Homo sapiens: one gene and its partners. The protein of the gene in region 1 purifies or fractionates together with the protein of each later gene. This does not show direct contact. Each region holds a gene or a part of one and is shown on either strand. Other genes may lie near its edges. The genes, in order: PPP1R7, TTLL12, DNAAF10, ADISSP and DNAAF11.

Evidence for each region.
Region 2: the proteins of PPP1R7 (region 1) and TTLL12 fractionate together in Homo sapiens (co-fractionation; one large-scale study listed by BioGRID). This does not show direct contact.
Region 3: the proteins of PPP1R7 (region 1) and DNAAF10 purify together in Homo sapiens (affinity purification with mass spectrometry; one large-scale study listed by BioGRID and IntAct). This does not show direct contact.
Region 4: the proteins of PPP1R7 (region 1) and ADISSP purify together in Homo sapiens (affinity purification with mass spectrometry; one large-scale study listed by BioGRID and IntAct). This does not show direct contact.
Region 5: the proteins of PPP1R7 (region 1) and DNAAF11 purify together in Homo sapiens (affinity purification with mass spectrometry; one large-scale study listed by BioGRID and IntAct). This does not show direct contact.

Annotation. Positions count from the first base shown.
Region 1 is NC_000002.12:241,166,809-241,171,521, reverse strand, and holds part of PPP1R7 (protein phosphatase 1 regulatory subunit 7), read right to left. Parts: intron 4,478-4,713; coding exon of another isoform or gene 4,454-4,477; exon of another isoform or gene 4,348-4,453; intron 3,847-4,347; exon of another isoform or gene 3,785-3,846; intron 1,742-3,784; coding exon 1,655-1,741; intron 1-1,654. UniProt on the Homo sapiens protein: Regulatory subunit of protein phosphatase 1.
Region 2 is NC_000022.11:43,169,836-43,174,548, forward strand, and holds part of TTLL12 (tubulin--tyrosine ligase-like protein 12), read right to left. Parts: coding exon 4,664-4,713; intron 4,569-4,663; coding exon 4,374-4,568; intron 3,992-4,373; coding exon 3,880-3,991; intron 2,720-3,879; coding exon 2,568-2,719; intron 2,066-2,567; coding exon 1,984-2,065; intron 1-1,983. UniProt on the Homo sapiens protein: Negatively regulates post-translational modifications of tubulin, including detyrosination of the C-terminus and polyglutamylation of glutamate residues. Also, indirectly promotes histone H4 trimethylation at 'Lys-20' (H4K20me3).
Region 3 is NC_000002.12:68,139,646-68,144,358, forward strand, and holds part of DNAAF10 (dynein axonemal assembly factor 10), read right to left. Parts: intron 2,151-4,713; coding exon 2,049-2,150; intron 1-2,048. UniProt on the Homo sapiens protein: Key assembly factor specifically required for the stability of axonemal dynein heavy chains in cytoplasm.
Region 4 is NC_000020.11:3,754,481-3,758,066, forward strand, and holds part of ADISSP (adipose-secreted signaling protein), read right to left. Parts: intron 1,128-3,586; coding exon 989-1,127; intron 40-988; coding exon 1-39. UniProt on the Homo sapiens protein: Adipocyte-secreted protein (adipokine) that acts as a key regulator for white adipose tissue (WAT) thermogenesis and glucose homeostasis at least in part through activation of protein kinase A (PKA).
Region 5 is NC_000008.11:132,668,234-132,672,946, reverse strand, and holds part of DNAAF11 (dynein axonemal assembly factor 11), read left to right. Parts: intron 1-4,713. UniProt on the Homo sapiens protein: Involved in dynein arm assembly, is important for expression and transporting outer dynein arm (ODA) proteins from the cytoplasm to the cilia. Acts as a crucial component in the formation and motility of spermatozoal flagella.

The DNA of each region.
Region 1 (4,713 bases):
GATGTGCCTCTCAAATGTGATATGAGCATGGAACTGAGTTTGAGAATTCCTGGTTTGCAGCTTTCCTTCCTGGAATGCAATTCTTTACCTGTAAAATGGGGTAATATGACCTTATCCACATGGTTGCTGTGATAATTGGATCAGAATGGAGAGAGGTATGGACACCATAAAGCGCTGTGCAAATTCTGGCTATTTTTTACTATCTTTGGTGGCCTAAGGAACAGGATTCTTCTGTGTTACAGGGTCAGGCACTACCTGGCCCCTAGTGATTGATCACCAGCCTGCCTGCCTCCCTGCTAGCTGTGGTACCCAGGTTGGCCCCTGCCTGTGGTCTCAGCACTCTGTGCCCCATGCTCTGTTCCTAGGCAGGGCATGCAGAAGGAATCGTTACGCTTCAGGAACATTGCTTCAGTATCAGCTCGTTTCCCAAACCTGCTCCCTAATTTTTTGCCAGGTGCCCTTTCCCTATCACCTGGTCCTCTGTCTCTGGACTCCTTATTCCTGTTGTTTGGTTTCTTTGTGTTGTTCCCTGGCTTCTTTGCCAACTCCCTATGCACTAATTCAACCAGCCTACCACCAGCCACACCTTCCTTCAAGGGTGGGCTGCACATAGACCCACCTGGACTCATTGAGGCTCCCCCTGGCCTGGTACATCTTTATCACCTGCCAAATTCTGGCTCTGATCTTCCCAGACATGCTCTGGTATCCCATCATGACACTACTCAAGACCCAGTGCCACTAATAAGGGGCAAGGAACATTTGCAGCAGGCCACCTGTGTTCTAGGGAAACTTGGATGACCTTTTAAAGTGGGGAAAGGAGAAAGCACAGGACATAAGCAGGGTCAGCAGCACGGCTAGAGGAGAGACAAGGAAGAATGATGCCTTACACTCAGCATGAATCCTGGATTAGACTGAATGTATCTGAGGACACTACTACATTCCCAGCATCACAGGGTGACACCTGTGCCGCAGTCTCTGCAGGGCCACGTGCTAGCGGAAAGGCAATAAACCTTAGGAGATTTCTCTAAGGGAATCCTAGCACTGAAGACTTCCACTCGGGGATCATTTCCCAACCCCTTTAGAGGAACTGCAAAAACTTCTTATATTCTGTTTCTCTTCCTGCTGACTCCACAACACTACTCCTGAAACCATACCTGTGACAAGACAAATACAAGGCAAATTCCAAGATGACTAACTGCAGAAACCCATCCAACATTTCCTTCTGTTGTGCTGGAATATATCTGTAGGGAATGCGTCTGCCTCTCTGCTGAGGTTTGCAAACCATTTGGTCAAATGACAATTGTAGGTTCTACCCATACCTAGATCAGGGCTTCTCCAACCTTTGTGTGTACTGCAATCACCCGGAGTCTTGTAAAGCAAAGATTTTGACTCAGTTTTCATCTGGGCTATGGTGGGGCCCAAGATTTTGCATTTCTAACAAGCTATGTCAATGCTGCTGATCTGTGGCTCACGCTGAGGAGCACAGACAACACCCAATACAAGTCTACAAGAGCGCCCACCCCAAATCTCATGATGTGCGGAGTCACTCAGCATGAAGGCTTACAGGAGATTCTTGTATTCATTCATAAGACATTTTAATCAGTGAGACCAGTTTAGTCAAAGTGTCATCAACCCCAGCGTGTATTAAACTTACCCAGAACTCTTGCAGCTCTGTTAGATGGCTGATATTTTCAATCTTTTTGATTCTATTTGATGCAATGTCCAACATCGTGAGTTTGTTCTAAAAGAAGGAAATAAAATGTTTCCTGGATTACCTCTGATCAACAGTGATTTGCATGACCACGCAGGCAGTGTCAAGTGCTGACCTTAGGGCTGCAGGTGCACTGCCCTCTCTGCCCTCACAGGGTAAGGGCATGCTATGGAGGGTGACGAGACCTGCTTGCTTCCTGCAGCCCTCCCTGGGACAGTGTTTCCATCAGAGCCTGCCCAGCTATCTCCCTGAGCTCTCCTGATCGCTGGAATTTGAGACTGTGTCAGACTCCAAGCCCAGTCCTCCCAGATCCCTGTCCATTGAGACAGACCTAGTGAGACTGATGGTCCCAGGAAGAACCGAGTAACCCCCTGACGCTCTGAAGAAAGGCTGACAATTGTAGAAACATTTACTTAGTGCTCATCACGAGGAAATGTACGACCAAGTAATCTTCAAAACAAAGTTCCTCTCTTCATTTAGGGATGAGGAACTTGGGGCTCAGTGGGGCTAAGAATCTGCCCAGGCGCACAGTAGCAGTGGGAGAGGCAGGACTCTCAGACCCCAGGCCTACACTCTTGTCTGGGAAAAGGGTCCCGGGAGCATAAGTGCAGAGAAGGGACCCATGCTGAGGACTGGGTGCTGGGCCTGCTGAGCACCTGCTGCAGGGTGTGTGCCCCCACTGGGAGACAAGAGTGTGTTTTTAGGATCTTCTACTCTGAAAATGCACATCAGTTACTCACTTTCCAATACATGTTAGCTAAGCCTGAGTAATAATTTTGTTTCTCATCAAAAGGAAAACATTTACAAGCTGTCTGAGAACCTCTGACAAAGTTCATTCCCTTCTCTGCCCTCACGCTCTGCTCCCTCCTGAGTCCCTTCCTTGGTTTTCTACTGCATTTTTGGTATTCCAATTCCAAAGCCTTCTAAGTTTTAAGGGAAAGTTAAAAAATTTCTCAAAAGCAAATACTCCTCCCCCCATCTCCCCTGAAATGTACCCAGCCAGTAGCTTTCCCAATTCGAAAGCGCTATGGCTGTGGCCTGGGAGCTCCTCTGGCTGTACCACCCTTGCTGCCTTGGCGCCCAGCACCCCAGCTGGCACCAGCTGCGTGTGTCAAGTCTGACGCCACTCTCCAGCAGGCTATACGTGGCATGCTGCCTAGGAGGTGCCTTCAAACCACCCCATCTCGGTGCCCTGGTCAGGTCTGCTCACAGAGTATCAGGCTCAACAGTGTGCGAGGGAGCTCAGTGGGGCGGGTTCAGAGCAAAAAGGACTGCAGGAAAATGTTGCAGAAGACGCGACTGTGGGTAATCCAACGACACACCGCCTGGCGGTGGGGCTGGAACAGGCCTCTCTAGCACGGACGGCAGCTCTCCCCCGCACTCTGCACCATTCTGAGATGCTCATGGTCATCTGGTATGCAAGCCCAGAAACTGGCAAAATGAAAGTGGCCTGGAACACACGCAGGATTTGAGCCTCGTGAGGTCCAAGCACCAAGGCTCAGCACGAGGGGCAGAGCCGGTGGTGGGCTCTGGCTGTCAGAACCGGTCCATCACCTCTGAGCTCAGGGATCCATGTAGGCACTCAACACTATTTCACGTTTTTCTACAGGAGCTGGACAATGTTGTGAAAACTCATCCAAAAGCAAACTAGTAAGAACTGCTTAAGAAACAGAAAAAAAGAATGGAACAGGGTGAGGAGAGCAGGCACACCAAAGGGCATGACACAACGCCACAGAAACTACACCTGTCAGGGACCACTGCAAACATATTCTAGACCAACGGGAGAGCCCAGAGCTGGAGAAGACACGAAGAACAAGACAGGAGTCGTGAGACACTGGGATGGGGGGTGTCGTCTAAGTTCCCACCTGGGACAAAACTACATTTACTTTCTTATTTCCCACCATAAAAATAAATTCCAGATAAATTAAGAAACAAAACTTAGGAGAAAATATTTGTCTGATCTTTAGTTGAAAAAAATGGCAGAAGAAAGACTGTCACATTTGATCATGATGAAGATTACAATAACGTAATTACCTTTAATACAACAATTTTTTTTTTTCTGTTTTGTTTCAGAGGCCCAAGAATAATCTGGTGTTTAACCAAGATCACAGTGTAGCACTTCTACTGGTAAAATTCTGAACCACACTTCTTTCCAGTTTTCCTGGGACTGGCTGCTTATGTGAACTGTGCTGCAGATTGTCTGTCTCCCGGTGGATGCTTGGTGGTGACTGCAGGGCCTTGGCTCAGGGAGGCCAGGGTGCAGGAGGGCACCAGGGCTCCCTGCTGCGCACCCCACCCGGCCCCAACCCCAGCCCCTGCCACACAGTCCTCAGCGCCATTCCACTGCAGGCACGTCTCGACTTACCACTCTAAACTACACAGGTGAACACTTGGTTTGCATGCTAGTTTTATAAACTTTTAATTTCAATGCAAAGTCAAAGGAAGGTGACCAAACTTTCCACAGGCAAATTTGAATTTTTCCAAAATTTTATGCAGGTGTTGGTGAAATTTACTGCTGCCAACTAGGCCCTGGGGTTGAGGCACAAAGGCCTTTAATGAGATTGAAACACTATGTTTATAGACCAATCTGGTTGTATTTGCTGGCAATTTAACAAAACAGAAAAAAACAAGTAAAATTGAATGAGAAAAAGTCTTTTATTTGTCTTGAACACCGCACTGGGGCAGAGCAGGGTGAGCTGGAGGCAGCTGAGGAGGGTGGGGGCTCTGTGAGCACACTTCCCCTCAGTACGTGAGGCTGTCCTGCACCTGAGTGAGAAGGGCCGGGGAGGGAGGGAGGAGCATGAACAGGTGAGGACAGGTGTGGAAAGCAGGCAGGGAGGAATGGGGGAGGAGGAAGCTGCTCATACTGTAAGAAGAGGAAGGGGCTGGGACTGAGAGCTGGTCCTGTGCTCTCTGTGGGCTGGGAAGTAGGGGCTGAGGCCAGTGGACCCATGGACAGGTCAGTGGCCTAAAGGGATGCCAGTCACCCTCATACAGGGCCC
Region 2 (4,713 bases), on another chromosome or scaffold:
ACTGACTTTGCCACGCAGCTGTGAGGCTCACGCGAGACAATGAACATCGAGGGCTCCAGAAACTGCAGGGCCTGGGCTGGCACCATCCTCACACTCAGCTCAGTACAGTGCGAAGGAGGCAGAGCTCAAGACTCCGCCGCGGGACCTGCCTGTGCCCTGGTTCAGCACCAGCTCAAGAGTGCTTGAGGGATGCAAGATCTTTCTGGCCTCAAGACTTTACCCAAAACACACCCGAGGAAGGTGGCAGTCGGCTCAGGTTTCTCCCAGAAAAGAACAAGCCAGGAAAGGCCCCTATGGAAGCCCGCCATCCATGCCATGCTGGACGTACCTCCCCAGGCACAGAGCTCCAGGAGAGGACTCCCGGGATGACCCCCACAGTACAGAAGGGAGGGGCTCAGAACCTGAGGGCGACTTCCAACAATGTCCTGGGGCCCTGCTGGGGGGTCTGGGTCCTAGGGAGTAGGCTTCAACACAGGCAAGGATAAGACAGACAGAAGCAACAGGACCACTCGGCCCCTGTGGGGAGTGTGTGCTGGTATAGTCACCAGTGCATGGCAGGGCCCTTTCTCCAAGTCCTCCTAGAGGACTCCTCGGACATGGGCATGGCCAGGTGCCTCCACGCATGTTCACGCGCCATGATTTATCATTAGTGAAGACCTCAGATGACCAATCGCCGCCACAGTTAGCAACAAGCCCGAACCTCAAAACCTCAAAACACGCCACTCAGCCAACAAAGCAAGCTGCAGAAGGATCCGTTGAATAAGATGATATTTACATAAAAACCTAAGTAGGAGGCCGGGCATGGTGGCTCACGCCTGTAATCCCAGCACTTTAGGAGGCTGAGGCAGGCGGAGCGCTTGAGTCCAGGAGTTTCAGACAAGCCTGGGCAACATGGCGAAACCCCGTCTCTACTAAAAATACAAAAAAATTAGCCGGGCGTGGAGGCACGTGCCCGTAGTCCCAGCTACTTTAGGGGGCTGAGGCAGAAGGATGGCTTGGGCCCAGGAGATTGAGGTTGCAGTGAGCCCAGATCATGCCTCCGCACTCCAGCCTGGGTGACAGCGTGAGACATTGTCTCTCAAAAAAACAAAACAAAACAAAAAACCTAAGTAAGCAAAACAGCAGCTTGAATGGTCAGGAACATACTCCTGCTGAAAAGAACCAAAGACATGCCTGGGAATGACAGCCACACGTTCAGGGGTCGGGGAGCGTTGGGGCTGGCTGCATGGGGAGTCCGCGGCACCTGCAAGGCTGGCGACAGGCAGGGTGGGGTAGGTGTTCTGTGCATCTGAAACACTCATTAACCAGCCAGGCCACAGAGGCCTTCCAGGACTTCCTTTCTTCCTTCCTGTACCCAGAGCTGGCCTCCTGCTTCTGTGCAGGCTGTGCCTACCTGTCCACGTACACTGGCTGGCCAGCTCTGGTTTCTCGCCCCCACCTTGGAAGGGCCTTTGTCCAGATGCCCCTGAGCTCCAGGTGCTCAGATGGTGCAGCTGCCATTCACTGAGTGCCCACTGCATGGGGCACCGCTCAACACTGTGCACCAGGGAGGACAGGAGGTCCTAGACCCGGGCAGGGTCACGGGCCAGCAGCCAGCCGGACCAGGTGGGGCCTCCCCGCCCCCGCCTGCCCTGGCACTCACAGGGTGGTCTGCTTTTCCGGTTGAAGTGGTGGTGAGGAGTAAGCCCCGGCTGGGAACACACTGTCTCAACCTGCTGCTGGACCCATCCCCCTCTGTGTCCACATTATCTCAAACACAGCCAGTGGCCCTCTGTGCCGTGGGGAGACCTACCTGAGACAACACAGAACCCAGCCTGGCTCATGATGGCAGCGCTAACAATCGCCTTCCATAGCAGGAACTCAGGAGGCGGCTCCTGGGACTGGCCTGTGTGCCAGTCCTCCTAGGAGGCAGTGTGGGCGGGGTGGGGTCGGGTGTGCCCTGGCCTCTGTGTGAACCTGCTCTGCACCTCCCTCAGGCCCTACCTGCTTCAGCACCACATCCGGGTCATAGTTCATGACCGTGAAGTGCTTCTCGTAGTCATCCAGGTCGTTGAGTGCAAAGGCCCTGGAAGACAAGTGTGCAGACACATATGGGTTCTTGAGCGGCCTTGTCCCTGCGAGGGAGGTGCCACCCACTCAGCCTTCCCAACTAGGGGTTCAGGGCTCAGGGCAGGACCACCTGCTGCTCAGGCGGGAGCCTGTTCCCTTGTCTGTGTGGCTGGGGGAGCCCCACAGCCCCACTGAGCTGGGGTGGAGGTGAGTGAGGTGCTAGCTGTGAAGCCTCTGCAGGTCCATAAAAATGGCACCTGGTTCTCATGTTGGTGCCCATTTTACAAAGAATGTTCACATCCATTACTGTGGGCAACACCAGAACTCTGAGGTGGGCAGGGCAAGTCACCGCCAATTAACACCAAGGGAGATGGGCTCCAAGGGCCGCTAGCTGGGTGAGTGATGGAGGGTGCCTTCCAACAACATTTTCTGATTCCAAAAAGGGCCCATCACCCACCCGCTACCTCCACCCGGTCACCCAGCTCCCCGACCCTGGACCCAGCCGGCCCTCCACTTACCGGTTGGAGAACCGCAGCCAGAACACATCATACACGAACAACCGTAGGGGCCTCACTGACCGCAGCAGCACGATGTAGCGGATGTCGAACTTGACCTTTCCCACGTCTTCTCGAAGGAACAACACGGGACTTTCGATGTACTTGGACACAACCTGGAGGACACAGGTGCAAGCTCGCTGGTGGCCAGGACAGAGCCCCCTGGGGCTCCCGAGCACACAAAGCCACGCAGGGGGCACAGACATGGCTGCACTTTACTCCTCCTTCTGCCTTTTCAAACCTGCCTAAGTTGCTGCAAAGTCTTTTTTTTTTTTTTGAGACAGAGTTTTGTTCTGTTGCCCAAGCTGGAGTGCGGTGGCACAATGTTGGCTCACTGCAACCTCTGCCTCCCGGGTTCAAGCGATTCTCCTGCCTCAGCCTCCTGAGTAGCTGGGATTACAGGTGCCCGCCACCACCCCCAGCTAATTTCTGTATTTTTAGTAGAGAAGGGGTTTCTCCATGTTGGCCAGGCTGGTTTCGAACTCTTGACCTCAGGTGATCCGCCCACCTTGGCCTCCCAAAGTGCTGGGATTACAGGTGTGAGCCACCGCACCCTGAAGCAAAGTCTTTATATCCATTTTTAATTGAAATGAAATATAAATTCTCACCCATAATTCCATCCACCCCCATCCCATGGCCTGAAGTCTCCACGACAATCGTCCTCATGATGCATTTCCCGCCAGCCTCTGACTATGTACACAGTCCAGGCAGATCCTGTGTCCTGCAATCCCAATACTGCTTCTGGATGTCCCCTCACTATGAATCTTTACCACGGCTCTGAGAGGCTCCTTGTCCAGGCTCAGCCACCTCACCCTGCTGGGCAGCCATACCTGGCACACTATGTGGTAGGAACTTTGCGATTAGACGCACCCAGGACAGTTCTTTTTTTAAAGACTGGGTCTTGCTCTGTCGCCCAGGGCGGAGTGCAGTGACGCGATCACAGCTCACTGCAGCCTCAACCTCCCGGGCTCAAGTGATCCTCCTGCCTTAGCCTCCTGAGAAGCTGGGACTACAGGTGTGTGCCAACATGCCCAGATAATTTTTAAAGTTTTTTCCCTTGTAGAAACGAGGTCTCCCTATGTTGCTCAGGTTGGTTCCAAACTTCTGGGCTCAAGTGATCCTCCTCCACTTCCCAGAGTGCTGAGATTACAGGTGTAAGCCACCCTGCCCAGCCTGGACCTGTCCATAAGGACCATGATGCTCGGTCCCCTTAGCCCCACCTCTCACTGTCCAGCCAGGGCCCTGAGCCCTGGGGCTCCTGGTCTGCGGGGCCCACCTTGGGGGTGCTCTCTCGGTGCCGGATGATGCTGTGCAGGCTCTTGGTGACGTGGGTGTCCAGGCTGCGCGCCAGGTTCCAGGGCTTGCAGATCCAGTGGTTGTCCTCGCCCCTGGGGAGCAGAAGGGCTGTCTGGGGGGCGCCTGGGGCCTGTGTTCCCAGATGGTGCCACCCCAGGACCCAGAGGCAGAAGAGGGCAGCCCACTTCTCCTTGGGAGCTGAGGGGGCACCAGAGAGCTGTCAGAGGCAGGGGCATGGGAAACAAGGAGGGGTTTGCCAGAGGCCAGGCAGCTGCGCTGCGGTGGAGAGGACAGCCCCAGCAAAAACCTGGAGAGGTCCTGCGGTCCGTGAAGACGGCCGTGACGTTCGGGGCCCACAGCTCGGCTCCTGCACCACGGTTTCCACAGTGGGTGCTCATGGAGGAGCAGGCGGACACAGACGCTGGGCCGGGGAAAAGGGCCATGGAGCACACCGATGCCGTGTCTGGGACTTACCACCTTTCCCGCTGCTGGAAGTAGCTGACAAACTGGGGCAGCTCAGTGCGCAGGTTGAAGGTTCGGGGCAGCCAGGGTGGGCCCTCGGGGCCACCTGCCCGGCGCGCGATGGAGGCCAGGCAGTCCTTGACAGTCAGCAGGTTCTCGCAGGGGAACTGGTTCAGCAGCACGCCTGGCCTCTCCTGGCTGAGTTTCCTGCAGGGCGGAGGCAGGTGCGCCAGCTCAAGGGGAGGCCGGCAGTGCCTAGAAGCCCTGACTGGGAGGGCCCCTGCGGCCAGAGGTGCCCTCACCTGTAGTCCTTGAAGTGTGAGAAGTTGAAGAGGATGTCGGCGTCCGCCTC
Region 3 (4,713 bases), about 170 Mb from region 1:
TACAAAAAATTAGCCGGGTGTGGTGGCAGGCGCCTGTAGTCCCAGCTACTCGGGAGGCTGAGGCAGGAGAATGGCATGAACCTGGGAGGCAGAGCTTGCAGTGAACCAAGATCGCGCCAATGCACTCCAGCCTGGGCAACAAAGCGAGACTCTGTCTCAAAAAAAAAAAAAGAAAAGAAAATGCTTTCTACTATATCTGCAAAGGCTAGCAGGCCAACTACAGCTCAAACACAAAGGGGTCTCAGAGAATAAATACAGTTATACCTCTATTGCTTTCTTGGCAGTAACTATATTTGAATGCAAACAGAAACTTTAAAACTAATTTATCTTGAAAAATGTTGCTCTGGTGTGATTCCATCTTTACAAGGAAATCTGAAATAAGTTGTAGCACACTGTGACATATTTTTAGTAGTGTGGATGATCATACCTGAAGTAAGTTTATAATCTGTGGTTAAACTCATCCTCCTGGAATTAATTCAAGGATTTTTTTCCAAGTATCTCTTGCTGAGGAAAGAGTGTTAAGTGAGAAGGAGGCCCCTGTCACTGTGCTATGCTATCTGGGCATCCTATCCCAATGCTTTCATTGCCCCTAACTTCGTTTTTCTCATAAACTCCAGCCCTGCATTTCCACTGTGGGCCCCACCTAGATGGTACACCATCATCTTAAACTCATGATGTCCCAAAATGACCTTACCATTTTCCTTTACAAATTATCCCACCCCTTGTATAATTTTTTCAATTAATACCATCATTCACCCCACAATCAGCCTGAAAACTCAGTCATCTTGGACATTATCCTTTTCTTTGTTCTTCATATCCAAAAACATTCCCAAATTCTATGTATTCTGCATAATATTATCTTCTGAATCATCCACTCTGCTCCCTTCTCAGTGCTTGTAACTTAGGTCTTCCCTGGAATACTGCAAAGAGCTCTTGAACTCATATTCTCTGTACCACTCATCACTCCCGCTAAATACCACTAGTTCATTTTCCTAAAGCTCGGATTTCATCTCTTCCTTGCAAACACCATCAAAAACTTAGAACTATCTTCAGGCCGTCCTAACACCTCTGGCCATTGTCCTGAGCCATCTCTAAGGATATTCCTACTATTACTCTCTTCTACCGTTGGCCCTCCCTATCCATGGGTTCTGCATCTATAGGCAACCAACAATGGATCGAAAATATTTGGAAAAAAATTTGCATCTACACTAAAAACGTACAGACTTCTTGTGCTTGTCATTATTCCCTAAACAATACAACAATGACTGACACAGCATTTATATTATATTAGGTATTATAAGTAATCTAGAGATGATTTAAAGTATACGGGAGGATGTGTTAAACCATTCATGAGAACTCCGCCCCCATTAATCACCTCCCACCAGGCCCCACCTCCAACACTGGGGATTACAATTGGACATGAGATTTGGTGGGGACATAGATCCAAACCATATCAAAGGGCAAATGTCAATTAGTCTTCCAAAGTCAATATTCATTTTAAGTAAATTAATGAAGGAATACAGTTATCAAAATTTATAAGAAATAACTTTGTAATGGCAAACTATTTTCTAGAAAATAAACATACTCCGTATATAGCGTAATGTATGATTTGTTAGGTAACTGTTTGCATTTGAGGCTTGGTTTATCCCCATTAATGGTGTCTGACTTTAAATTAGGTCAATATTATCTAGTTAAACAGGAACACATAATAATAAGCACAATTCTCAGCACTTTACATGTAATTAACTCATTGACTCTTCATGACAACACAACTAAGTAAATTCTATTATTAATTCCATTTTATAAATGAAACATCCAAGGAACAGATAACTTTGGTAACTTGCTCCAGGCCACATGGCCAATAAGTAGCAGGTGAGAATTCAAACTCAGGCCCCAGAGGCTGACATTAACCACCACGTGTATTTGCCTCAGTAAACTATTAGAATAATCCACAAAACAGACCATAAAGAGACTACTGTGAAATTTCTTGCAGCATCGTGCTTTTTACCATCTGATAATTCAAATGCAAGAATTCTTCAATAATTTACCAAATGCCACAGTCCAACAGTCTCTCTTGTTTTCTCCTTGTACAGGTTCCATATTAGCAACAGGATCATCTTTTTGCCTTGGGTCCCACACCTTCACAGTTCCTGCCATGCATAAAAGTGAGTTGGCAAAAATTCAAAAGTAAATGATTATGTTTCTTTTCTACATTCTTCTTCTATGGCTTCCTGTGTACATGGCAATATGACAGATGTTATGACATCTGAAAATATCCACATTGTTCTGACTTCTAATTGGGTAAGTTGTATTTAATATCAGAGATATCACCCATATGTAACTATCTGACTTGGTTTCCAAATTAATAGACACACAGAAAAGCCAACAAGTGTTCCTAAGTTATCTACGAGTGATGACTGACAAGGCAAATGTGAATGTTACGTAATTCAAATCATGAGCCTAAAATGAATGTGTTATTTTTTAGGGAAAATACCAGTGTTGTTTTAATTTTTACTTTTTTCCTTATTACCCATTTTAACCATTGGCATGAATACACTCTAATTTTGAATTAATGGTTTCTTATGTGAGTTCTAGAATACTATTTCTTTTTCTTTCTTTCTTTCTTTTGTTTTGAGATGGAGTCTCACTCTGTCGCCCAGGAATGCAATGGCGTGATCTTGGCTCACTGCAACCTCCGCCTCCTGGGTTTAAGCGATTCTCCGTCCTCAGCCTCCCAAGTAGCTGGGACTACAGGCATGCACCACCACGCCCAGCTAAATTTTGTACTTTTTTAGTAGAAATGGGGTATTGCCATGTTGGCCAGGCTGGTCTCAAACTCCTGACCTCAGGTGATCCACCTGCCTGGGCTTCCCAAAGTGCTGGGATTACCGGCGTGAGCCACTGTGCCTGGCCTAGAATACTATTTCATATACAGTTAAGTTTAATTTTCCTGTGGCAATAGTGAAGAGGAAAATGTTAAATAAAATTAACAAATTCTCAATTTAATTTCAACCCCCTTGTTTTAATTCATGTTATGGGACTACTTACTAAAATAGTGTCACTACCTACAAAAAATGCAAATGCATGTAATAAAATGGCTAAAAGGCAAGTACCTGAGAATAAGAAAAGGGCAAAAAAAAAAAAATCCTTAAAAGGAAAACAACTCAGGAAAGGTGGAGGTACAACATTAGATTTATCTCCAGGGATAAAATAAAGTTGATCATTAAAAGGCTGCTTTACTTTAATATTTATTTATTTAGAGACAGGGTCTTGCTCTGTCACCCAGGATGGAGTGCAGTCGTGCGATCATGGTTCACTGTAGCCTTGACCTCCTGGGTCCAAGTGATCCTCCTACCTCAGCCTCCCAAGTAGCTGGGACTATACCACCATGCCTGGCTAATTTTTAGTTTTTGTAAAGATGGGGTCTCCCTATGTTGCCCAAGCTGGTTTCAAGTGATCTTCCCACCTCAGCCTCCCAAGTGCTGGGATTACAGAGATGAGCCACTGCACCCACCAAAAGCCTGTTTTAAAAAGAAAAAAAAAATCCCAGATATAGAGATAAGAGATTATCTTTCTCTATAGGATTCATACAAATTGATAAGATCTCAGCCCACTTCAACCTCCCACTGCCAGGTTCAAGCAAAACTTGTGTCTCAGCCTCCTGAGTAGCTGTGATTACAGGTGTGTGCCACCACACCTGGCTAATTTTTGTATTTTAGAAGAGACAGGGTTTCGCTATGTTGCCCAGGCTGGTCTCAAACTCCTGGTCTCAAGTTATCCGCCCGCCTCAGCCCCCAAAGTTGTGGGATTATAGGCGTGACTGTACCTGGCCCAATAAATTTTTTAAAAAATCATAAAATATATTTATTCCAAAAGAGTTACACATATGACAATACTCATTTACTCATTATTTTTAAGCCACTCTCATAAGACAACAAATAAAAAAAGCAAACCAAAGGCTTATAAGGGAATGGTTAAGTACGGCCATATGATGGAATATTATATAGTCATTAAAATGATAACTGTGGAAACAGCAACATTTGCATATGACAAAACATTAAATAAAAAAAGTTTCTAAGATACAAATTCATATTCACACTTATAACTATGCAAAATTATATATAAGACCTAAAAGGAAAAGAAAAATCTAATGGTTGTGGTAGTGTGGTAGACTGAATGTTATTTTTCCCTCTATACTCAATATTGCTTTTATGATTAAAAAAAATAAGTGATTTCTAAAACACAGCTGCTCTTGAGTACCCACTAGAAAATTATATCTCACTTTTCCTTTAAAGCAATTTCCTCATGGTCTTGAGCGGCCATTAAACAACTAGCCAAATCAATTATAATAGGTACCAAATTTCTCATGTACCCCTCGTGAAGCAACAACATTTCTGACTCTATTAAAGTCATGCAGTACCACTTCGGACACCAAAAGACCTGGCCCTTGTTGGTCACTGCAGGGTGGAAGAGCTGAGTTGGTGCCTTTGGAACTCTCTATAATGCTTAGTGGATGGATCACAGAACTTCAGTTTTCAAGCAGCTGTCAATATGACAATTTTCACAAGTACTAATTCTGCCTTTTAAAAAAAGAAAATGAAAAGCTGCCACCCACATTATATCGTCAGCTGCCTCAAAAACCTGTAAAGACATTTTAAATCCTTCAAGGTTCAGAGGAAACCATCATTGTTAGTAGCTGAACCAGCTCAACAC
Region 4 (3,586 bases), on another chromosome or scaffold:
CCTCTTTGTGCGCCGAGTACTCACACTTGACACTATAACCTGCCCGGGGACAGGGGCAATTGGTCAGCACCTCCCCCAGCCTCCCCGATCCTGCCCCTGGCACTCACGGGCCCCTACCCACCACCATGGGGGGACTGCATGCTAAGCCCCCCCAAGAAAGGGGCAGGGATGGCCCTTCTGGAGCCCAGAGACCCATTCCCCCTAGCAGGGGTGCACAGGTCTCAAAAACCCATTCTTCAGTGAGCTGGACATGCCTCCAGCCTGTGGGCCACCCCAATGTGGCTCCAAGAGTGAATGAAGTAGGGTCCAATTCAGGCTTCCAAAAGAAGGTCTGGCTGTTTTCTCCCAAAAGGAAGGCAGGGAGAGGCGGTGATGAGGAGTGAGGGGGGCAGGGCAGGGTAGGCTTTGAGCAGATCCGATGGCAAGAGGTAAAGGCCTGAGGGGTGTCAATCCATTGAAGGGCAAGGTCATGAAGAGGCTGGTGACGGGGACATGAAACTGAAGCTGGAGCTCCACGAAACTGACACCCTAGCCTCTGCCAGGCTGGGAGTGGGGCATGGGGCAGGGCCTGAAGTGAGCCTGATAGGAACAGCAGCCTGAAACCCAAGGTCTGGGACTGGTGGGTGCTAGGAGTTATCCACACGGTGTGTGTAGCTCCAGCAGGTTTTTCTAGAGGGTTAGGGAGGCAGGAGGGAAGGCTGGAGGCTTCAAACCAGTTCCTCAGCAGCTCCCATCTTGGTTACTGCCCCACGGAGGTAACCATCACACCATGGGCAGGTACAGGGAAGTATGAGCTCATGGACTTCTGTTCAGGACAGGGAGCAAGGCCTGGAGTGTGGGACCTGCCATGCTGCCACAGTGCAAGCTCACAAAGAGGTGCCACATCCCCGACTTGCTGAGCTGCCCATCCACCCTAGTTGGAAGTAAGGGAGCACCCCATGTTCTCACTCCCACACCCATCCAGGCCCTGCTGGAGGAGGGGACGCACCTTCAGGGACGGGCACCACGCTGAGGAGCTTGAGGTGCAGGCTGGGGACAGGTGCCTCGCGGACATCCTTGCTCAGCCTGTGCACTGGGGGCAGAGTGAAGGTAATCTCATACCTGTGCAGGATCTTCAGGAAGCCAACCTACAGCAGGAGAGGTGAGGGAGGGAGGCACCTTCACTTCCTGCTTCCCGCAGGCCCACCCAGTTGTGCCACCTATGATCCCATGCGCCCCAGCACCTGCTTCCCCAGAGAGCCCAGAAAGCCCAACTCCCTCCATCACTCCAGCTGATCGACCCCCAGCCCAGTGGCCCCAGCCCTTTCACAGACCCCTTGAGGGTCCCAGCCCTACAGCTTGGCCAGCAAGATCCTCAGCATCTGTCTCACGGGCCCCAAAGTCCTCAGTGGCTCATTTCATAGACAGGAAAATGGAAACCACAAAATGACTGGCCAAAGGCTATGTAGTGTGGCCAGGGTCAAGTCCTCCCTAGACTTCTTGGCCATTCCTGCTATGCATGGCACCCAGCAAGGCACCACCCACTGCCTACAAGGGAAAGTTCAAAGTCCCATGGGTCATTCACCTGTCCCCATCACTGCCAGTATCCCAGGGTCAGGGATGCTGGTCCTCCATTCGCTCATAGGATGACACCAGGCCACAGATAGCGTGGGATGAGGGATGGGATCAAATTAGAGATATGACAGTAGACCAGCTGTGTCAGCCCAGAGCTGGCCCACAGGCCTGGCACCAGCCACTGAACTGGGGCTCCTGGCTGCCCTGCTGGCACTGGACTGGGGATGCCTGCCTGCCCACTCAAAGGCTGTGTCCAATGGCCCATACTCACGACCCAAGCAATTTCTGTTGTTCATTCACAGTGCTTGGTGACAACCACCCTCTGGGACAAATGCCATTCTTGGAAACTCCAGTAGTATGAAGGGTCACAAGCCAGGGTGGTTGCTGAGCAGGGGGGCTGGTGGGGGTGCCACGCCAGCAGGCAAAGGGTGCCTGCTGTACTCCCAGCTTGCATGGGCACACAGAGTCCTGCTCACAGTTACTGGGGCTGGGCAGCCCCATCCCTGGGGGCCAACTGGGACTGGCTGCAGAGAGTTTTAGCCATTCAATGGGACCAGGTTGATATTGCTACATGACAAACTTCAATCCATGTGCCCCCCTCATGCTCTGCTGGTAGGGGGCACATCCCTCAAGAAGGCTTTCTGGCTGTACCTGCTAACTGTGACCCTGTGACCCAGGGGTACTACTTATAGAATTTTCCAGGGGAAATAGAGATGTGCAGAAAAATACTCTTCGCTGCCCTATTTATAACAATGAAAACAAAAACAGCCGTAACACCCAGGAACAGGGAGCCAGCTAAGTCAATGATGACACGTATCATGGACCAGTAGGCAGTTGTAAAATCTCGTGGAAAATTATTTACTGACACAGGTAGGAGACAGTTCACAACAGAAGCAAGCAAAAACCAGTGTGGACACGGTGAGGCCAGCTTTTGTTTTTGGAAACAAAGCTTTTTAAAATAAGCTGGATCCATCACCATAGTGTTTTCAGAAAAATAAATAAATAAATAAATAACATTTTAAAAAGCTGGAATAAGCCAGGTGTGGTGGCTCACGCCTGTAATCCCAGCACTTTGGGAGGCCGACACGGACGGATCACGAGGTCAGGAGATCGAGACCATCCTGGCCAACAGAGTGAAACCCCGTCTCTACTAAAAATATAAAAAATTAGCTGAGAGTGGTGGCACGCGCCTGTAATCCCAGCTACTCTGGAGGCTGAGGCAGGAGAATTGCTTGAACCTGGGAGCTGGAGGTTGCAGTGAGCTGAGATGGCGCCACTGTACTCCAGCCTGGAGACAGCAAGACTCCGTCTCAAAAAGAAAAAAAAAAGCTGAAATAACACACATCAGAATATTAACCATGGTTATTTTGGGATAGTATGACTGTGGGTACTTTTAAATTTCTTCATATTTTCTCTGTCTTCCAAATTTTCTCATGTCTATTAAGACATGAGTGGATTTTGCAATGAGGGGAGAGAGCTATTTTTAAGTGTTGGTTTGTTCCATTTACTCTCTTGGGGAAGCTGTCAGCTGTAGGACAAAGAGTGGGAACTTCAGAGTTGGACAGAAATGGATACAAACCTGGGCCCCCCAGGTTCTTTTTTGTTTGTTTGTTTGAGACAGAGTCTTTCTGTTGCCCAGGCTGGAGTGCAGTGGCACAATCTCAGCTCACTGCAACCTCAGCCTCCTGGGTTCAAGCAATTCTTCTGCCTCAGCCTCCCAAGTAGCTGGGACTACAGGCGTGCGCCACCACGCTCAGCTAACTTTTGTATTTTTAGTAGAGACGGGTTTCGACCCATTGGCCAGGCTAAACCTGGGCCCCTTTTGAGCAGCGCAGCAGACCCCCCACTCAGGGCCATCTCAATGGGCCAGACCTCCCCCGACCCAAGGGCACTCCTGTTCAACTCTGGACCCCTGATTTATTGACCAACCTGAAGGCCTCAGTCTCCATTTTCCCCAATCCAGCTCCACCAAGCAGAAAACAGGGGGTGATAATACTACTTCAAAGAGCCTAACTGAGCCAGAGATTTGGCA
Region 5 (4,713 bases), on another chromosome or scaffold:
CAGGTTTTAGAGAGACCGTGCTCGAGAGTTCATCTAGTGTACCTGTTCATTTTAGAGATGAGGAGGGGAACATTGATTCAGCCAGTGTCACATCCCGTCAGTCAGGAGAGACGTCGAACCTAGGATACGAGCTTCCCGGCTTTCGCGGCTCTTTCCACAATTCTCAACCTCCTTCAACTAAAGGAGAAATTTGGGCTCCTGAGAAAGGATGATAATAATAGCTCACTCACAGTTATTGAGCTGCTTATTGCCTTCTAGTCAGTGTTCTGAAAGTTTCTCTGTGTGTGTACTCATTGAATTCTCACAAAAATCTTTTGAGGTAGACACTAGTATCATCACCTCCATTTTGCAGATGAGGAATCTGGAGCACAAAGAGGTTAAGCAGCGTGCCCAGTGCCACACAGTAAGTGGTATATCTGGGATGGTAAGCAGAGCCCGCACTCTTGTGTATGTTTGCTATATTGTCTCTTAGGAGTAAGAGACAGTTTGGTGAGAAAAGGAGAGGTCATGGTGCAAATTCTCATGTAAAGTTGAAGAGACCACTATTTTTGATGTTTGTGTCTGCTCAGGAGGACCAATATTGAGCCTGGGGATGGTGGCAAGAGGAAAATGAATTAGTTCCTCTCTGTGCATTTAATCTGGTGTGTGTTGTGATTTAGAGAAGATCTAGTGTCTTTATTCTTAAATTTTATACTATTGAATGCATTTTGTATTACTGGGACACATTTGTCATCTATAGATCTTCTTTGGTGAAATGTCTTCAAATATTTTGCCCATTTTATACATTGATTTGTTTTCTTATCCTTGAGTTTTAAGAGTCTTCTATATATTCTGGATATAGGTCATCAGATACATGATTTGCAAGTATTTTCTCCCCACCTATGGCTTATATTTTCCTTCTCTTAATTATTTTGAAAGAGAAGATTTAAATTTTGAAGTTTAATTTATTATTTTATAGATCTTGCTTTTGATGTCATATCCAAGAAATCTTTGCTAAGTTTACATAGATTTTTCTCTTTTTTTTCCTAGAAATTTTATAATTTTTGGTTTTATGCTATTCCATCATTCATTTGACTCAATTTTTGTATATGATGTGAGATGTAGATTACATTGTTGTTGTGTGTGTTTTTTTTTTTAATATGGAAATCCAGTAGTACCAGCCCCACTTGTTGAGGACTATGCTCTCTCCATTGAATTGAACCTTTGGATAAACCAGTGGCTTGTATATGTGTGTTCTCGACTTTCTTTTCTGATTCATTGATTTATTTGTCTTCCTCTGTGCCAATTTCACACTGTCTTGATTACTGGAGCTTTGTAATAAGTAGTCTTGAAATCCAGTAGTGTTTTTCCTCTAAATTTTTTAATCTTTTAAAGTTGTATTCAGATCCTTTACATTTCTATATGAATTTCAGTAGTATCTTGTCAATTTGTACAAAAATAAGTCTGCTGGGATTTTGACCTGAATTGTGTTAAATCTGTAGCTCGATTTGGGGAGAATGAGTATCTTAACAATATTGAATCTTCTGACCCAAAAACAAGGGATATATCTCCATTTATTTAGATATTACAAAATGTCTACAATATTTTTGAAGTTTTCAATGGACAGACTTTGCACATATTTTTCTGATTTATCTCTAAGTACTTCATATTTTTGATGCCATTGTAAGTGTTGAGTATATAGAAGTATACTTGATTTTTTCATATAGATCTTATATTCTGCAATCTTTTCAAACTTTCTTATTCAATTAGCTTTTTATATGAATTCCATTTGATATTCTCTGTAGACAGTCATATCATCTGCAAATAGAAATAATTCTACTTCTCTACCACCTGGATGCCTTGTTTTTCCTTGCCTATTGCTAGAACCTTCAGTATAATGTTGAAGTGGTGAGAACAGATTTCCTGGCCTTTTTTTCTGATTCTTACGGGAAGAGTCTTTCTCTGCTCGATATAATGTTGATTATAGGTGTTTTGTGGATGCTCCTTGTCAAGTTGAGTTCCTTTTTATTTCTGGTTTTCCGAGTTGTTGTCTTTTTAAAATTGGGAATGGATGGTGGATTTTGTCAACTGCTGTTTTGTCTCTACTGACATTATCACTTTGTTAGTTTATTAATATTGTATGTTACTTGGATTTCTGAGCATTATATCAACCTCGTATACATTGGATAACTCCCCCCTTGGTTATAATGTATAATTTTTTTATTATGTTGTTGGATTTGATTTGCAAAATTTTTTTGCTTAGGATTTTTACATATGTGTTCATGAGGTACATGGATCTGTAGTTTTCTTTTCTTGTAATGCATTTGATTGGTTGTAATTCTGACCTTATAGAATATAATGGGAAGTATTATTTCCTCTTCAATTTTCTACAAGAGTTTGTGTATATGGGGTATTATTTTCCCTTAAGTTTTTGGTAGAATTAATCAAAGGAGACATCTGTGCCATAGTTTTATTTGTGGAAAGAAAGGTTTTTAACTACATATCCAGTAGATATAGGGCTGTTCAGCTCATCTATATATTCTTGAGTGAGCTTTTGTAATTTGTGTCTTTTAAGGGATTCACCCGTTTAATTGATGTTCTTGAATTTATTGGCATAAAGTTACCTATAATATCTGTAGAATACATATGATGTTACCTCTCTCACTCCTAATATTGGCAGTTTGTGTCTTCTCTCTTTTTTGCTGATAAGTCTGACTGAAAGTTTACCAATTTTATTTTCTTAAAGAGCCAGCTTTAATTTTTATTAATTTTTCTCTATTTTTTTCTGCTTTTCATTTCATTGATTTCTGTTATAATCTTCATTATTTACTTTCTTCTGCTTATTTTGGGTTTAATTTGTTCTTTTTCTAGATCCTTAAAGTGGAAGCCAATATTTGAGACCTTTCTTTATTCCTACTATAAGTATTTAATGCTATAAATTTACCTCTAAGTAATGTTTTAGCTGTATCCTGCAAATTTTGATATGTTGCTTTTCTGTGTAATTTTTTTTTTTTTTTTTTTTTTTTTGAGACGGAGTCTTGCTCTGTCACCCAGGCTGGAGTGCAGTGGCACGATCTCAGCTTACTGCAAGCTCTGCCTCCTGGGTTCACGCCATTCTCCTGCCTCAGCCTCCTTGTAATTTTTAACTCTGTTCAAAATACTTTCTAATTTTCCTTTTTATTTCCTTATGCCCAAATTTAAAAAATTACTTTTGTATGTTTTGTATAGATTTTTAGGCTAGAGGGTAAACCCTGTTTTATTACTCTATTATGTCCAGAACCTGACGTCACTGCTAATCTTATGATGAAGTACTGGTCCTAGCCCTCAGCTTTCTCTGTCCTCTGGTTTCAGGAAATGAAAACCTCTTCATAGTGCTCCCAGTCCAGTCCTCTGGTTTCACACTTCCTCTCTCAGCCTTTCCTGATCAGTTGTGTTTAGCAGCAGCCTTTATACAATACAATATAATTGTCCTTTAAGTTACAGTTTCTCTCACATTTCTCTAACACCTGACATGTTACACTTACTAGTACATTCCCTTCCACTTGTATCCTATCTCTGTTCAACACCAGTGCAAGTCTTTACAATTGCATAACTGCCTTGGGCCAGGCACTATCTATGTTCTGCCTACCAGGAATAACAGTGTCCTTGCCACTGTGACAACATGTAGTCTGACTCCAAAATCCTATCTTAGCTAGCATCTGCTTTCATGCACCACTTCTGGTATCAACTCTTCCAGTTTAGGCTCCTCAGGAAGCCGATATCTAGGTGGGAATTAGCATGCAGGAGGTTTATTAGGGAGCATTGTTGGGGTGGGTAGGAAAGAAATCAAAATTGAGCAGAGGGGGAAGTTGGGCTGTGATATGTCTAACAAAGGCCTTAGGAAACCAACCAGGAGATCTAAACTTGGAATGAACCTTCTGACTTGCCCAAGTTGGGGTGAAGAACTGGGCCTTTATAGCCCCTACATCAACCAGTCATTGAATGTGGACTTTCCCAGGAAAGGAAAGGCCATGACCTTGGCTGAACAATCTCTTCGCTGAGACAGCTCATGAAGAAGGTGGGCAGCAGAGGGCTGTCTGTCAACAGAGCCCCCAGCAGCTAGAGGAATTAATCCTTCAGTTTTGAAGAGGGACCTGAGAAGTGCATCATGTCATCCACGATGGCCTAAGGTGCCCTTTCCTGGTTTATCTAACAAACATCTACTCACATTTCAAGATTCAGCTCAGGGCCGGGCGCGGTGGCTCAAGCCTGTAATTCCAGCCCTTTGGGAGGCTGAGGGGGGTGGAACATGAGGTCAAGAGATCGAGACCATCCTGGCTAACACGGTGAAACCCCGTCTCTATTAAAAATACAAAAAAAAAATTAGCCAGGCGTGGTGGCAGGTGCCTGTAGTCCCAGCTACTGGGGAGTCTGAGGCAGGAGAATGGCGTGAACCCGGGAGGCAGAGCTTGCAGTGAGCCAAGATCGCGCCACTGGGCGACAGAGCGAGACTCTGTCTCAAAGAAAAAAAAAAAGATTCAGCTCAGACTCCTCCTCCATGAAGCTTCTTCTGACTTCCTTTTTCTCAGTAGCACCGATCACTGTCTCCTGTGCACTCATCATACTTTCTATGTTCTTCTCTCAGTGCCCCATAGCACTTAGTGCTTTTCAGTAGCACACTCCAGTAAGTCGTCCCTAAAGATATCACTAGATTGGGATATAGTACGGCTGTTGCCGCTCATTATGATGAGCCTG